Homo sapiens: one gene and its partners. The protein of the gene in region 2 interacts with the protein of the main gene of each other region in a pairwise test. Each region holds a gene or a part of one and is shown on either strand. Other genes may lie near its edges.

Evidence for each region.
Region 1: the proteins of UPK2 (region 2) and ZNRF4 interact in binary tests that used the Homo sapiens proteins (3 or more experiments, as listed by UniProt).
Region 3: the proteins of UPK2 (region 2) and FCGRT interact in binary tests that used the Homo sapiens proteins (3 or more experiments, as listed by UniProt).

The regions. Positions count from the first base shown.
Region 1 is NC_000019.10:5,451,358-5,457,366, reverse strand, and holds ZNRF4 (E3 ubiquitin-protein ligase ZNRF4 precursor), read right to left. Parts: upstream 1,951-6,009; 5' UTR 1,876-1,950; coding exon 586-1,875; 3' UTR 511-585; downstream 1-510. UniProt on the Homo sapiens protein: E3 ubiquitin-protein ligase that acts as a negative regulator of NOD2 signaling by mediating ubiquitination and degradation of RIPK2. Also catalyzes ubiquitination and proteasomal degradation of CANX within the endoplasmic reticulum.
Region 2 is NC_000011.10:118,952,080-118,959,087, reverse strand, and holds UPK2 (uroplakin-2 precursor), read right to left. Parts: upstream 2,791-7,008; 5' UTR 2,738-2,790; coding exon 2,662-2,737; intron 2,206-2,661; coding exon 2,074-2,205; intron 1,881-2,073; coding exon 1,742-1,880; intron 1,491-1,741; coding exon 1,420-1,490; intron 992-1,419; coding exon 855-991; 3' UTR 529-854; downstream 1-528. UniProt on the Homo sapiens protein: Component of the asymmetric unit membrane (AUM); a highly specialized biomembrane elaborated by terminally differentiated urothelial cells. May play an important role in regulating the assembly of the AUM.
Region 3 is NC_000019.10:49,522,636-49,526,938, reverse strand, and holds the end of FCGRT (IgG receptor FcRn large subunit p51 isoform 1 precursor), read right to left. Parts: intron 2,433-4,303; coding exon 2,163-2,432; intron 1,483-2,162; coding exon 1,366-1,482; intron 930-1,365; coding exon 820-929; 3' UTR 511-819; downstream 1-510. UniProt on the Homo sapiens protein: Cell surface receptor that transfers passive humoral immunity from the mother to the newborn. Binds to the Fc region of monomeric immunoglobulin gamma and mediates its selective uptake from milk.

The sequences.
Region 1 (6,009 bases), on a different chromosome or scaffold from region 2:
GGGATTACAGGCGTAAGCCACTACGCCCGGCCTAAGAAAATTTTTTTGTAGAGGTGGGGTCTTGTTATGTTGCCCAGGCTGGTCTCAAACCTCTAACCTTGAGCGAACCTCCCACCTCGGCCTCCCATCCCATCACACCTGGGATCCCATGAGACATAAGAGGAAACGGAGTAAAAGGGGTTGGAGAACTCTATGGCACCTTTGCAACTTTTCTGGAAATCTAAACCAGTTCCAAAATAAAACGTTTATTTTAAAAGAAAAAATGTGAATGAAGAATAAGGCCATCCAGGATGAGTGACCCGTGTGCCCGGGACTGGAACCAAAGCACAGACGACCCGTCTCAAAGCCACTCCGGCACCACGGTCACAGCCGCCCCAAAAAGGCCCCCCAGCCCTCACCACCCCTCGCTCTCCCGCCCGCAGAAACGGGGATTGGCCTTAGGCTTGATGGGGATGGGTGTCCCCCAACCCCAGTCAGAGGCGGGTGGCCCAACAGCAGCGAGGCTGAGAATCCGCTTTCAAACCCACTTTATTCTTTTCAGACCAGAAACATTCCTCATTGCACCCCCCTCCCTGCCCTAGATCTTTACTGACCAGGGGCCTCAGGAGGGGCTGAGGAGACAGTGGTATACTCTGCCTCCAGGGACGTGGTGCTGCAGTGGCAGTGGGGACTGGCGCGGCCCAGCAGCTCCAGCCTCCGGGAGCGTAGCTGGACTTGAATGGCCCAGATGGGGGGCCGGTGGCCCGGTAGGGAGGGGTCCTCGTCCCTGAAGCTGTAGGTGGTGGAGTCAAAGCTGTCTTCTGTGGCGGCCACCGACTGTTTGCACACGGGGCAGGAGCGCCGGGGGGCTTGGGAGAACCAGGGGTCAATGCATTTGCAGTGGTAGGTGTGGGAGCAGGGCAGGATCTTGAGTTGGTCGCCCTCCTCATACTCATCCAGGCAGATGGCACACAGGTCGTTGTGCCACGTGAAGGTGCGGACCTGGGCCTTCTGGCAGGTAGACGTCTTCACCGGCCGTCTGTGGCTGCAGCAGGCCTGGGCCCAGAGCCACAGGTGGTTCAGGACAAAGAAGGCTGATACGACCAGGGCCAGGGTACAGCCCAGCACCCAGGACACGGTCAGCACGGGGTGACAGCCCAGGTCGTGGCACGGTGGGTCGTCGGGCAGGAGCAGCGCGTGGGCCGACTTGTTGCAGCCCAGGATGACCCGCAGGTCCTGCGAGGCGGCCTCGCTCACGAACACTGAGGGGATGGCGATCTGGCCCCTCAAGTCCTCGTAGACGTGGGTCATGCTCACGAGGTCGTCGGAGTGGACGTTGTGCACGATGGCCGCCTCGAAGCCGGCGCGCTGGGCGTTCAGCACCTTGAGGTCGAAGGTGCAGTCGTAGCGGCGGATCAGCACGATGGCGCCCAGAGAGCGGTTGCCCAGTCGCGGGGCCTCGATGGGATGGCACGCGTTGGCTGGCTTGACCTCCATCAGGTAGCCCCGTATGCCCTCGGGGGCCAGGGGGACGCCGAACAGCGCCGGCAGATCCGCAAAGTCCACCGAGCTCGAGTTGTCTTCCAGCACGGCCCGTACCACTGCCTGCGCGGGCACCTGGAGCAGCGACAAGACCAGCAAGGCTTTGACTGCCACGAGGGCTCGGCCCGGCCGTGGCCACCCCATGGTCACCCGCTTCGCTGTCTGTGTGCTGCTAGGTCCCACTGGAGGCGGCAGGCATGAGGCCTTTGGGCATCTCCGGGGTCTCCCAGGGGGCCTGTGGCCAGGACGCGAGGGCAGTTGAGTTGGAATGACCGCGTGGCTCAGAGGCAGTGACGCGGCCACTGGGACCCTGCTGGCTCTAGGCATTAAGTGCTCCGGACGGCAGAGCGGCATGCGTCGTGTCTTTGAAGGCCGGTCTCAGGAGGTGCTGGCGCAGGTGGCCTTTCTGGCAGATGACATGGAGACCAGGAGTCACCAGGGTTCTAGATGCCCCCAGCTTCTGTGACATCGCCCTGCTACATTCTGTCCCAGGAGCTGCCAGCTGCCTGGGCCTGTGGCCAATGGATCATTCCTAGGTCTGTGATTTGCCGGTACCCGGGCAAGCTTTGAGATAACTTCTTGAAGGCTCAGGGTATCTTTGGACCCAAGGAGGCCCAGGGATGCTTCAAAAGGGCTGCCGGCCCCCAGCAGTGCAGATTCAGCCCTCACTGTGCGAAGACGCTACCAGCATCAGCTTCTGGAGGTTCCTAGCAACACACTGTAGAAGGTTCAATGTTACCCTTGTCTGAGACTCCAAGAGTGACCCAGACTTGTTCAAGCCACGCCCCCCTACAATGAGATCAGTGCTTAAAACCCAAATTCCTGACCCCCTGTCACCATCCCTCACTCTGCTCCAGCCACACAGATCTCCTTGCTGTTCCTCCAACACACCAGGCAGGATCCTGCCCCAGGGCCTTTGCATGGGCTGGGCCTCCTGCCTGGAAAGCCCTTTCTCTCCGTAGCTGGCTCTTTTATCCGGACTCAGGTCTGAGTCCATATATCCTCAGAGCCCTCCTGGACTTGATTTGGAGGGAGAGTCAAGTGCCAGGGTCAGGGTGGGGCTGGTGGGGGTCAGTGGTCCCAAGTCCGCACCGCCAGGTTGGCCTCCAGGCTTGCACCAGCTTCATTCTCTCTCCCTATAGCATTGCCTCTCCAGCTGGGTCTCCAACTGTGCCCCCTGCCTGAGCTTCAGCCCTGGGCATCAGCCTCACCTCCTCCCCAGTCCCCATCCCCCAAATTTCACACCCTCAATCTGTCTGCAGCCCACTCAAGTCGGATTTCTGTCTCTGCCATTCATAAGCTGTATGACATCAGCTAAATTCCTTAGCCTCTCTGGGCCTCAGCTTCCAGACCTGTAACATAGTCTTTCCCATGCTCTAAACTCTCCCATGGCTCCCCATTGCCCTCCAGATAAAGCCCACACTCTTCTCTGTGGCCTACATGCACCCCTGTGGTTGGGCGCCTGCCAATCTCTGAAGCCTGGATGATTTGCAATGTCCCAGAGGCATCTTGCTTTGTTCACCTCTAGAATTTTGCAAATGCTGTTCCCTCTGCCTGGAACAGAATTCTTGCTCCTCAACTTCACTTTGCCAGGCTGACTACTTAGTCTTTAGATTTTCTGTGTTGGCCTAATACCTCTCAGAGCAGCCCTCAGCCAGTGACAGATGGGAGGTGGTAGATAAATGCCCCCACTCCCTCGTCCCTCTTATGGGACAAATCGAAGTATGTTCTACCATATCTCCTAGAGGTCCCCAGTCGAATGAGCTCCATAAGTCAACGAACCCAGTACTGTCTTGTCAATGAGCCCGCTACTGTCTCCTTCCCTTCCCCACCCACTTCTCTCCCCTCCCACAGCTTCTGAGATCACCTCCCACACAAATCTCTTGTACCATGTAGTGGGTGGGCCCCAAATAGAGATGTTGAACCCCTAACCCCTGGTTCTGACCAACCCCTGTGAATGGACCTTATTTGGAAATAAGATCTTTGCAGAGGTTTTCCTTCTAAGAAAGGGAGAAAAGGCCGGGCATGGTGGCTCATGTCCGTAATCCTAGCACTTTAGGAGCCCGAGGCGGGCAGATCAGTTGAGGCCACGAGCACATGCTGCCATGCCCGGCTAATTTTTGTATCTTAATAGAAACGGGGGTTTTGCTAGGTTGCCCAGGCTTGTCTCGAACTCCTGACCTCAAGTGATCTGCCAGTCTCAGCCTCCCAAAGTGCTGGGGTTACATTTGTGAGCCACCATGCCCGGCCCCTGGTGGCACTCCTGCCCCTGCTCTGTCTACTGCCACAGACGGAGGCCACACTATCTAGAGGCCACTGCCTTGGCCACTGTGGATGGCCCTTGCAGCCCAGTGCTACCAAGCAGAGGCAGGTTTTTCAGTCCAGCAGGCATGAGAGGAGGCAAGAGTGGAAAAACAGAAGCAGAGAGGGACAAATGTAGCGGTCAGGCTCGGGTTGGCTGTGGTAAGCAAGACCCAACCACAGCGGTGTAGGCGTACAGGGCTGATTTGCTTCTGAATGTGGAATGTGAGTAGTCATTCCTGGGATGGCATGGAGATGCTGGGGTGTCTGCAGCCCAGACTCCTTCCATCCACCATATCCTCAGTAAATGGCCTCCTCCTCGTGGGACAAGGCAGGTGCGTGAGCTCCAGCCATCACATCTGCCTCCCAGGCAATGAGGAGGAAAGAGTGAGGAAGAGCTCACCCTGTCCCTTTAAGGACACTTCTTGGAAATCCCAGGCACCACTTCTGCTCACACTGCATTGGCCAGAATTAGTCACGTGGCCATGCCTGGCAGAAAGCTTGCTGGGAAATGTAGTATTTATTCTGAATGGCCAACTGTGCAGCTGAAAACCAGGGCTTCTATTACTATGGAGGACAAGACAACAGATGTTGGAGGCGTCCAACACCACCTGTCACTCGGACACACTTGAGTAACCTGGCCTTCAATGGCTGCCCAATACATATTTGTTGAATGAATGAATCCCCACACCTCCAGCTTAGGCCTCCTTCAGTGGTGAGTGAGCTCACTGTCCCTGGGGATGGAAATGAGCTTTTCCCGGGCCCTTCTGTGCACCAGACTCCAGGCCATGTGGCTTCACTCCACCATTCAGCCACTGTGAGCCTCAGTTGCCCCTTCTGTAAAGAGGAGGCAGCATCAGCACCTGCACTGCGGGGTTCGCTGAGCATGGACGGTGCTAAGCATAGTGCCTACCACGTACGAAGTGCTCTGTTTGCATTTGTTGATGGCCTAAGTGACCTGCCCACAGCCCAGTTATAATATTGGGTGATCACAGCTACTCGGGAGGCTGAAGCGGGAACATCGCTTGAGCCTGGGAGTTTGAGGCTGCAGTGAGCTCTGATCATGCTGTGGCACTCCAGCAGCGGGCCACAGAGCAAGACCCCACCTCTAAAAATAAAATATTGAGTGATCAAACTGTGATGGGGAAAACTCAGGCACCGTGCCAACCCAAAGGGAGGCACCTGGCTTATTCTTTTTTTTTTTTTTTTTTTTGAGACGGAGTCTCGCTGTGTCGCCCAGGCTGGAGTGCAGTGGCACCATCTCAGCTCCCTGCAAGCTCTGCCTCCCAGGTTCACGGCATTCTCCTGCCTCAGCCTCCCGAGTAGCTGGGACTACAGGCGCCCACCACCATGCCCGGCTAATTTTTTGTATTTTTAGTAGAGACGGGGTTTCACTGCATTAGCCAGGATGGTCTCGATCTCCTGACCTCGTGATCCGCCCGCATCGGCCTCCCAAAGTGCTGGGATTACAGGCATGAGCCACCGCGCCCGGCCGCACCTGGCTTATTCTAGAGAATCTAGAAGGCTTCCTGGAGGTGGTGTCTTCTAGACTGAGATCAGAATGAGCAGTGGATAGTGCTATGAACAGGAAACGCGATCCTGGCAGCTAGAACAGCACGGGCAAACGCCCTGCCTGAGTAGCCTGGTCTGGCATCCAGTAGATGCTTAATAAGTGAACATAGAACTCCTTGCCATCACTCAGGGCCTGCCCCCTCTGAAAAAGGGTCTCAGCTTCATCCCAGCTTCCTCAGTCCCCCAACAGCCAGGCCTGGGCCCTTCTCCAGACGCCTCCACGAAAGCAGAGTGGTGCCAAGGACTGGCAGCTTAACGAGGCCGGCCTGTGCCAGCCCCGCCAGCCCCCACCTTGGCTGCTGTTCTTCGTGAGAAGCTGCCGAGGCCCCCTCCTGCCCAGCCAGGTGGCGCCCCGTCTGTGTTTGTCTAAGGGGGAGTGTGGCCAAATGGGGAAACTGAGCCCCAGAGGAGGGGGGCACTCGGGGATGGCAGGAGCCACCAGCACTGCCACTGAGCAATGCAGCCTGCAGCCTGTGACCGTGCCTTGCGGGAAACTCCGCTGACCCCCTGCATCCAGGGCCAGGTTCCTGTGGACACCCCATCTTCTAGAGGGGGGAAACTGAGTCTGTGACAGGGGACCAGACTCACTAGGACTACAAAGCCGCAAAGTGACTG
Region 2 (7,008 bases):
GCTGGGGTTATAGGCACCTGCCCGAACACCTGGCTATTTTTTTTTTTTTAATATTTAGTAGAGACGGGGTTTCATCATGTTGGCCAGGCTGGTCTCAAACTCCTGACCTCAAGCCAGCTGACCGCCTTGGCCTCCCAAAGTGGTGGGATTACAGGCATGAGCCACTGCACCTGGCCTGTCTTTTCCCAGACAGATCCTCTCCTCTTTTCCCTAGCACTTCCCTTGCTCTGCCTGCCCCCCACCCCCACCCCCAGGCCTCCAGGCCTCCACATGGGGCACCAGCCCCAGCTTCTGCCCTGACCTGCACCCCTAGTTGAGTGGCCCACTGTGTACTGTGGATGCTGCCAAACCCACAGCCCCGGTGTGTCTCTGAGAACTCTGACTGCTGGGCTCTTACTGGCCCCTGCCTGCCTCATGGGAAAAGTAACTCTGGGCTGTGGGGCAGGGAGGGGACCAGGAGCACCTGCAGCTTGGACATAGATTCCACAGGTTTGAGCCAAGGTAGAGCCCACTAAAGGGAAACACATGTGGCAGATGCAGCCTCAGCCTTTATTATAGGGACTTAGTTCACTGAAGGATGGGGGAATTGTTATGGGGGTGTTTAAAGTGGTAAAATGGGAGGAAAGTCAACTCTGACAGGAGTGGGGTGAGAGGAATAATGGAGTGTTGGAAGGTGAGGCACTGGGGGCAAGGAGAGGGACAGAGGGAGGAGAGGGCTCTAGGGGAGAGGAGGGCAGGAGGAGGAGGCGAGGGCACCAAGGGAGCCACAGGCCTGGGGCCTGGGAGCAGGTGGGCTGGGGAGCTGGATGGTGCCCTGGGCTTCCTGGAGAAGCTGCTGCTCCGGGCAGACCTCCTTACTTGCGGGAGCCCAGTGCCAGGGCAATGATGAAGCCCAGCACCAGCAGGAACATGGCGACAGAGAGCAGCACCGTGATGACCACCATGCCCCCTGTGCGGGCCATACCCAGCCCAATGGATTCCATGTTCCTTCCTGTCAAAAGAGAGGGGAGACCACTGTGGGCGGGAGAGACCCCCAGCCTGCCTGAGGCTCACGGCCTCACACTCATCCAGCCAACAGACTGCCCAACCAACCAGCCAGCCAGCCAGCCAGCCAGCCAGCCAACCAACCAACCAACCAACCAGCTGATGGATCCAAACACCCATCACATAGACATTTATGAAGCATCTCCTATGTCAGCCGCTGAGGAAAAGTTAAGAGGACACAGTCCCTGCCCACGAGGAACCTTTAGCTGAGTGTGCAGTAGCCATGCCGAAGGTTCCGTGCTAGGATAGAGGTAAGCAGGGGCCCCGAGGGCGCACGGGGAGGCACAGGCAACCCAGACTGGGGATGAGGCAGGAATGGTCAGGGAAGCGTTTGTGGCCGCTGAGATGGGAAAGGGAGGCGGGAGTGTTACTTACGAGGGAGTGTGGACATTGGGATCTCTCTGCTGGACTCAGTGGCTGTCCCCTTCTTCACTAGGTAGGAAATGCTTTTGTGGTTTGGGAGAGAGTAGAGAACCCTCAGTGAGTATTGGGACTTACAGGAAGAGGGGCTCCAGCCTGGGCCACCTACCCTCACAGCTGTGTCTCCCCTATGTGCACTCCTCCAAGAGGCCCAGCTTTCACCCCCTTTTGCTGTGCCCTCACCCTCTCCTCATGCCCACCAGATCTCCCCCACACTAGCTTCTCTCTCTTCCTGCACCCCCTTCCCTAGGTGCCTCAGGCTGGACCCAGTACCTACTAGAATTTGGTTCCTGGCACGAGGTTTGTCACCTGGTATGCACTGAGCCGAGTGACTGTGAAGCCAGCACCACTGTCCACCACACTCACCAGTTCCCTGCGCCCACGGCACGGAGGCACCACAAAGCTGGACGTCACCACTGGGCAGAAGTGGCGGGAGGGGAAGACTGGGTCAAGTTTCTGGAGGCCCCAAGGAGAAGGGGCAGCTTTTAGAGTGTGGGTACCCCAGGAGACGGGTGGACAGGAAGGCATGAATGGGGAAAAGGGTGCAGAGGGTGTCGCAGGAAGGGGTCTTTGGGGACTAGAGGGATGCCTTGGGAGAAGGTAGCAGACCTTTGCTGTCATTGGCTCTCCGGACCATCAGTGTGGCATTGCCTCCTGTGAGGTGACAGGGGGGCAAGGCAACCAGCAGGCTCTCCGTTAGCGCCGGGGACAGCAGACCAGAGAGGCTTGAGATGTTGAAGTCTGATGGGAGGCAGGAGGGAGCTCCGATGGGGACTGACCCCTCCTGGCCAACAGATCTGGCCCGGTCCCATTGGAGCCATCTCCCTTTCCACTCTGTGAACCCTGGGCAGAACAGCCAGGCCTGTGCCAGTATGACCACCAGGTGGCAGGCTTGGGCTGCAGAAGCTGCACCCTCCACCAAGCGGTCCCCAGAGCCAGAACCTGGATGCCAGGAGTCGGGCAGCGCCCAACCTCACCCCTCCCCGCAGCATCGGATCCTTGCCCACACCTCTCTGCCTCCTAGGTCTGGAGGAGGATCAGGAGTGTACCCTGAGCCCAGTGTCTGATACCCAGTCACTGCCATCACCAGCCCTGACTCCCAACTGTCCAGACCTCTCTTTGAGAGCCCTGGAAGGTACAGTGCTCCCTGTCCAGGCCCCCAGCCCCCTTCCCACCCCTGCCAGAGATGGAAGAGACCTGCAGCCCCTGGGGACAGCAGAGCCAGCAGAATCAGGATCAAGGGCAAGGTCCGGATGGGCAGCAGGGGTGCCATGCTGGGCTGGGAGGTGGAATAGGTGCTGGCAGGCTGGGGTTCCTGAGGCAAGTGAGGCCCTGCCCCTGGGGTGGCTGATTTTGTCCTGGGGGTGGGAGGGGCTGGAGGGGAATCCAGTCCAACCTGCCCCTTGGGCCCTATAGCCTCAAAGGGGTGGGGAGAGCAGACAGGTTTTTCAGGATGGGGAGCTGGCCCTCAGGCCAGGAGGGGGGATGCCCTGGCTGGGTCTTGATGGTGTAACTAAGGTGGGGAAAGAAATCACCCCTTCTTCTGGGACTCCCGTGCATAAGGCAGTGTTCCTGTGTGCACGGGCATCTGGAGACTGGCCAGTCCTTGGAGGACTGCTCCCCCGATGTGGTGGGGGTCTTTCCCCCACCCCTCAGAAGGGTGATGAGTTTGGAAGTTGCCCTGATATGTAGGAAGAGAATACTCCAAGGGGCTACTGAAAGGGCCTTGAGTGGGTAAGAATGGGAGAGAAACATTCTGGTGGGGAGGGGCAGCAGACTGAGGGTTTCAATTCTTGGAGTGCACTGAGGCTTAGGTACTGCTGCTCTGGGAGAGGCAGGGGCTGTGGGGGCCAGGGAGCACATGCGGTTTCAGATTCCTCTGGAGGGTGGGGACGAAGGTGGCCATGGAAGACTTCTGGAGAGACCAGAGAGACAGACATTGACCCTGGCCAGCAGGGGTTGGGGGTGGGCACAGTCAGCCTTGGGCAGCAACCATTTGTTGAACTGAGAATGGAGAAAAGAGACCTCGTAAGATAACATGAAAAAGAGACAGAACTTCCCTGACTGCCTCCTCCAGCCCTGGGCTACATCAGAAAGAAGCAGAGGAGTTCTGAGCAGAGGGAGGGGAGAGGAGTCAGGACGTCTTCCGGGCCCTGGGTAGGGGTTCTGTGTGCTCCATTGTAGCCCTACAGCCACCCTGGGTGGTAGCTGGTACTGGCTTCCTTTTGTAGTAGAACTGAGGCCAGGCACAGTGGCTCATGCCTGTAATCCCAGCACTTTGGGAGGCCAAGGTGGGAGGATCACTCGAGGCCAGGAGTTCAAGACCAGCCTAGGCAACACAGAGAGTTTGATCTCTATTAAAATAGAAAAGAGATCAGCCGGGCGTGGTGGCTCATGCCTGTAATCCCAGCACTTTGGGAGGCCGAGGTGGGCGGATCACCTGAGGTCAGGAGTTCGAGATCAGCCTGGCCAATATGGCGAAACACCATCTCTACCAAAAATACAAAAACTAACGCGGTGGTGTGTGCCTGTAATCCCAGCTACTCGGGAGGCTGAGACAGGAGAAACACTGGAACCCAGGAGGTGGAGGTTGCAGTGAGCCGAGATTGTGCCCCTGCACTCCAGCCTGGGCAACTAAGTGAAACTCTGTCTCAGAAAATTGAGAGAGAGAGAGAGAGAGAAAAGTGGAAACTGAGACTCAGACACATAGAGTTACTTGTGGAAAGTGGAATACTTTGTCGGGAGAGGCTGTAGAACTTCCAGAAGCCTGAGAGCTGTACAGAGACTGTTGCTGTATATCTGTTTGCTCCACGAACTATTCTATCTTCCTCAGTCCCAGGGAAGCTTAGGGTCCTGGTAGGAATGTGAGGGAGGTTGTGTCCTTACCGCCAAGGTGGGAAGGGTAGGCTCAAAGTTTGGGGTGAGTGGAGAATGACAGTAAAGGAAGAACTCATGGGCCTAAGCAGAGAGTAGGAGGGTCTTACGCCAGTGCATCTCCAAATTTAATATGCGTATGAATTACCAGGGATCTTGTTAAGATGCAGCTTCTCATGCAGTCATGCAGTGGGTCTGGGGTGAAGCCTGAAATTCTGCATTTTTTTTTTTTTTTGAGACAGAGTCTCGCTGTGTCACCCAGGCTGGAGTGCAGTGGCGTGATCTCGGCTCACTGCAACCTCTGCCTCCCAGGTTCAAACGATTCTCCTGCCTCAGCCTCCTGAGTAACTGGGATTATAGGCATGTGCCACCATTCCCAGCTAATTTTTGCATTTTTAGTAGAGATGAGGTTTCACCATGTTGGCCAGGCTGGTCTCAAACTCCTGACCACAAGTGATCCACCCGCCTTGGCCTCCCAGAGTGTTGGGATTACAGGTGTGAGCCACCGTGCCCAATCAATTCTGCATTTCTAGTGACTTCCCCGTAACACTGATGATGCCGGTCTGAAAGGCCCACACTTGAAGTTGCCAGCTGCTCTGTATTGGTAAACAGCATCCCCACCCCCAGCTGGATCCTCTTCCACGGACATCAGGGATCAGGGCAGGTGTTCCTTCCCAATCTGCCCGAACAGGCTGCTTTTGGGTGAAGAATTTGGTTCTGTTTTTCCTGCACCTTGGCTTTTGATTCCACCACCACTGCACAAATGGAAAGAGGGTCTCTTGCACATTAAGGACAACTTGGGAGAGAGGGGACAGATTAAATGGTGGAATGCCAGGGTGAGGGGATCTTCCTGGTACTCCTCAAAACCTGTCACCCACCAGTAAGTTGTTTACACTTGAACTGGGAGGTCTTTCTCCTCATTCACAACCAAGAAGCAGAAAGAAGAGGTTGGGTTTATTGCAGGGTGGGTTGAGTTGGGTCCACTCTTAAGCCCCCATCCCCATCTAAAATTATGAGTGGTACAGAGTGGAGTAGGGGAGGGCAGATCTCTGATCAGATTTTAAAGGGATAAGAGGGCCCTGTGCCTTTAAGCTCTCCCTTCTCCCTCCAATCCCCCCCCCCCACCTTCCCCACCCCAGCCCTCCCCAGGTTTCTGGAGGAGCGGGGAGTTGCGTCTTCTCCCTGCCCTGCCGAGCTGCTCACTGGCTGCTCTGGAGGCTGTGCTTTGCGGTCTCCATGGAAACCATTAGTTGCTAAGCAACTGGAGCATCATCTGTGCTGAGCTCTCGCATCTAATTATCCCATCACAGCAGCCGAGAAGGGTTTGGGGAGCTGAGAGGAGGGGGAGGCCAAGCCCAGGAGCAAGAGGATAACTCTTTTAGCAGAGCAGATTCATTGACAATGCTGAAGTCAGTTAAAGCCACAGCACCATGTTCCTCTGGAGGATTTCCCAATGGCTTGGAGTAAGGGAACCAGGGCCACATGCCTGAAGTCTCTGTCTTGGACCCACTCTTTCTAGGCTGTCTCCTCCTTGGATTCTTGATTCTAAACTCTCTTGAGTTCCCTCCCCTGCCTCCTCTCTTCCAAATCTCCTATTCAAGCACTCCTATTGCGTACCAACTATGTCCTTGGAACTGCACTAGCCACCAGGGATATAAAGGTAAGATAAGTCTCTGCCCTCAGGGAGCTCTTAACAGCTCTAGTCTGCTCAGCCTAGAAGACTATCTCCTAAAACAAACTTCTTTCTGGACTGTGGCACCTTTTTTTTTTTTTTTTTTTTTTCACTTGAACTATGGCAGTTCTTCAACCAGGAGAGCTGGGATCAGAACCCAGGTCCGTCTGACATGCCCAGGGTTCTCCTTCCAGAGTGCCACTCTCTGCCTCCCAGTCAATTAGAAAAACATGTCTACTTGGCTGCATGGCCATGTCAGCCTCTGATGGCAGCTACTGTCCTCTTGTTGATGAGATACCATGTAACTTTAGGTGGACTTCAATGTTCTCACATTTAAAATGGAAGACTTGGCCAGGTGCGGTGGCTCACGCCTGTAATCCCAGCAGTTTGGGAGGCCGAGGCGGGTGGATTACCTGAGGTCAGGAGTTTGAGACCAGCCTGGCCAACATGGTGAAACCCTGTCTCTACTAAAAATACAAAAATCAGCCGGGTGTGGTGATGCATGCCTGTAATCCCAGCTACTTGGGAGGCTGAGGCAGGAGAATCGCTTGAATCCAGGAGGTGGAACTTGCAGTGAGCTGAAATCATGCCACTGCACTCCAGCCTAGGCAACAGAGTGAGACTCCATCTCAATAAAATGAAATAAAAAATGGCAGACTCACCAGGCACAGTGACACATGCCTGTCATCTCAGCACTTTGGGAGGCTGAAGTAGGAGGATCACTTGGGACCTGGAGTTTGAGACCAGCCTTGTGACGCAGCAAGGCTCCATCTCTACAAAACTGAAAAAAAAATTATGGCCAGGCGCTGTGGCTCACAGCCTGTAATCCCAGCACTTTGGGAAGCCAAGGTGGGAAGATTGCTTGAGCCCAGGAGTTCAAGACCAGCCTGGGTGATATAGTGACATCTCTTCTCTATTAAAAAAAAAAAAAAAAAAGCCTGGGCACGGTGGCTCACGCCTGTAATCCCAGCACTTTGGGAGGCTGAGGCGGGCAGATT
Region 3 (4,303 bases), on a different chromosome or scaffold from region 2:
ATGCCTGTAATCCCAGCTACTTGGGAGGCAGGAGAATTGCTTGAACCTGGGAGGCGGAGGTTGCAGTGAGCTGAGATCACGCAATTGTACTCCAGTCTGAGCAACAAGAGCAAAACTCTGTCTTAAAAAAAAAAAAAAAAAGTGACCTTAGGCCGGGCGCGGTGGCTCACACTTGTAATCCCACCCCTTTGGGAGGCAGAGGCGGGTGGATCATGAGGTCAGGAGATCGAGACCATCCTGGCTAACATGGTGAAACCCCGTCTGTACTAAAAATACAAAAAATTAGCCAGGCATGGTGGCAGGCGCCTGTAGTCCCAGCTACTCGGGAGCCTGAGGCAGGAGAATGGCGTGAACCCAGGGAGGCGGAGCTTACAGTGAGCCGAGATCGCGCCACAGGACTCCGGACTGAGCAACAGAGCAAGACTCCGTCTAAAAAAAAAGAAAAAAGAAAAAGAAAAAGAAAATACATGACCTGATGTATAAAACTGGCAGGTTCCCCTGTGGCAGCATGTTACCTGTAGGAGAGATCCGAGGCCCAGCCGCCATTCAGTCCCCCGACTTATTCCCTTACCTCCCCTGCCTGAAAAATGATGAGAACACACTGATTCGGGCCCAAACTCGTGTTATATTATCGAGGTGGAAAACAGCCATATGTATTAGGAGGGGAAACTGAGGCAGACCACAGGACGGGGCTCCAGAGGGAGGACAACTAGGCCCAGAACCCCTTCTGGAGGCTCAGAGATGCCAGTGTTCCAGGAGGTCTCACAGCATGAAAGGGGCCTGACTACATTCGCTTTTAGCAGTCGGAATGGCGGATGGTCAGGCGGTGGCTGGAATCACATTTACATCCTTCAAATCAGCATCCTGGGCCTCCCCTGGGGTGGGCAGGAGGACCCCGGTGTCGTCTCCACGAAGGGAGATCCAAGGGGCTGAGGAGAGAGAGAGAGGGAGAGGTCATCAGAATCTCTGAGGCGCTCTGGGTCTGACTGGCGTCCCCCATTTGTGTGTGTGTCTCACACACTCTTCCTCAGTCTCTATCCCCTTCCTTCTGGGCCTTTGTCTCCCCTTCTCCCAATTTTCCGTCCCCCCTCTTTCTACATCTTTGCCTCCCTCCTCTGGGTCTGTCTCCCCCTCCCTCTGTCCGCACCTCTCTCTGTCCCCTCTGGGTCTCTGTTCCCCCGTCTCTGGGTCTCTGTCTCCGTCCCCCTCTCTCTGCACCTCTGTTCTCCCATCTCTGGGTTTCTGTCTCCACCTCTCTCTGATCTCTGTCCCCCCTCTCTGGGTCTCTGTCCTCCCAGGTCTGTGTGCCCCTCTCTTGGGGTCTCTGTCCCTCTCTCAGAGGCTCTTCCTCCCGCTGCCCCCCACCTGGCAGCCCACTCCTCATCCTTCTCCACAACAGAGCTCCTCCTACAGCCGCTGCCGTGAGTAGCAAGACACCGATGACGATTCCCACCACGAGCACGGAGGACTTGGCTGGAGATTCTGCAGCCAGAGAACGCTGTGAGATGTGGAGCAGCCCCTCCACCCCACCCAGTCAGGACACAGAACTGGGGCGCTCCCAGTCCCTCCCAGCCTCGGAGATTCCAGCACCAAGTGTCTGATGGGCAGAGGCGAGGCCAGGCAGGCGATCTGGGCAGACTGCCCCCAGGTTGGACGTAAGAACCAGCTACAGCACGAGCGGCCGCGGTCACACCGGCAATGGATCAGCAGCGGCAAGGCGGGGCTGTGCCAGTGCAGTGGGGAGAGGCAGGCAGAGCAGTGGGAAGTCAGTCTCATGGGCCCGGGCAGTAGCAAAGCAGCAGGCAGTCAGTCTTGGTGAGGACGGGCATAGCAGACAACGAATGGTCAGATTCCAGGAAGACCCGCAGCAGCAGCAGCAGCAGCAGCAGGATGGAAGATGGTCAGACTCAGGGAGGACTGGCCATGGTAGTTAACAGCTCTTCAGACTCAGTGAGGCCAGAAGCAGCAGGAGACGGAAGGCAGTTGGCCTTGGGAAGGACAAGCCATCAGGTTTTGGGGGCACTGACAGGCGTGAGGTTCAAGGCAGTCAGATTCAAGGAGGTGGCAGCAGTGGGGAGGAAGGTCAGACTCAGGAAGGACCGGCGCAGCAGTGAGACAAGGCAACGGGAAACCAGGAGCATCACCACCTGGCGGGACCTCACCCAGCTCCACCCTGAGGGGCTGCGCCAGCCCCGCGTGCTGCACAATGCAGCAGTAGTGGTGCTCATCGCCACTTTTGACTGTTAGTGACGACGAGGCGTGGAAGGATCCGTCACTGTTGGGGCCGAAGTCACCCTGGCCGGTGCCAGCGGCCAGCCCATTCCGCAGGAACCGAAGTTGCAGCTCCGGAGGGTAGAAGGAGAAGGCGCTGCAGGTAAGCACGGAAAAGCCAGGGCTGCTGGGTCGGGCCTTCAGGCGCATGGAGGGGGGCTCTGCAGGAAATCAGGCAGACAGGCCTAAGTCGCGAGCCCACCACTCCCAGAGCCAGGGCTGGATAGGGACAGAAAGAGGCCTCCATGTTTGCACTGTGCTAACCGCAGATAATACAGTGGTAAAAGGGGAGGCACTTCCTAGGTGACAGAGACTCAACCTGTCCACCCCGAAGGTGTCCCCTCAAGATGTCACCTCCTTGGGCTGGGCATGTTGGCTCACGCCTGTAATCGCAACACTTTGGGAGGCCAAAGTGGGTGGATCACCTGAGGTCAGGAGTTCGAGACCACACTGGCCAACATGGTGAAACCCCATCTCTACTAAAAATACAAAAATTAGCCGGGCACCTGTAGTCCCAGCTACTCAGGAGGCTGAGGCAGGAGAATTGCTTGAACCTGGGAGGCAGATGTTGCAGTGAGCCAGGATCGTGCCACTGCACTCCAGCCTGGGCGACAGAGTGAGACCCCGTCTCAGAAAAAAAGAAAAAAAAAAAAAGATAGAGGATAATTATGAAAAATTCCACAGCAACACATTTGAAAATTTAGATGAACTGAACACATTCCTGATAAATACAACCTTCTAAACTGACACAAGAGGAAATTTAAAACGTCTGTAGTCCTATAACTATTTAAATTTTTTTTTTTTTTTTGAGATGGAATCTTGCTCTGTCTCCCAGGCTGGAGTGCAGTGGCGCGATCTCGGCTCACTGCAAGCTCCGCCTCCTGGGTTCACGCCATTCTCCTGCCTCAGCCTCCTGAGTAGCTGGGACTATAGGTGCCCACCACCACACTTGGCTAATTTTTTGTATTTTTAGTAGAGACGGGGTTTCACCGTCTTAGCCAGGATGGTCTCAATCTCCTGACCTCATGATCCATCCGCCTGGGCCTCCCAAAGTGTTGGGATTACAGGTGTGAGCCACCACGCCTAGCCTTTTGTTTTTGAGATAAGAGTCTCGCTCTGTCACCCAGGCTGGAGTGCAGTGGCACGATCTCGACTCACTGCAACCCCCACTTCCTGGGTTCAAGAGTTTCTTCTTCCACAGCCTCCCGAGTGGCTGGGACTACAGGTGCATGCACCACCATGCCGGGTAATTTTTTTATTTTTAGTAGAGACGGTGTTTCACCATATTGGCCAGGCTGGTCTCAAATTCCTGACATTGTGATCTACCTGCCTCAGCCTCCCAAAGTGCTGGGATTACAGGCATGATGCACCACACCCGGCCTATTTAAAATTTTTAATCCATAGTTTAAAACTTTCCAAAAACTAAAATTCCAGGTCCAGAAGACATCAATTAGTGAATTCTTCCAATGTAGAAATGATTCTATTCCTACACTAACTCTTCAGGCCATAAAACAGAGGAAACACTCTCCCAGCATATTTTATGAGGTCAGCATCATCTTGACAACAAAGCACATTATAAGAAAGAGAACTTGGCCAGGCGCGGTGGCTCACGCCTGTAATCCCAGCACTTTGGGAGGCCGAGGCAGGCGGATCACGAGGTCAGGAGATTGAGACTATCCCGGCTAACACGGTGAAACCCCATCTCTACTAAAAATACAAAAAATTAGCCGGGCGTGGTGGCCGGCGCCTGTAGTCCCAGCCACTTGGGAGGCTGAGGCAGGAGAATGGCGTGAACCCGGGAGGCGGAGCTTGCAGTGAGCCGAGATTGCGCCACTGCACTCCAGCCTGGGTGACAGAGCGAGACTCCATCTCAAAAAAAAAAAAAAAAAAAAAAAAAGAGAGCTTAAGGCCAATGTCTCTCATAAATATAGATTCAGGACAGGTGTGGTGGCTCACACCTAGAATCCTGGCGCTTTGGGGGGTGGAGGCAGGAGGATCACGAGGTCAGGAGGTCGAGACCAGCCTGACCAAC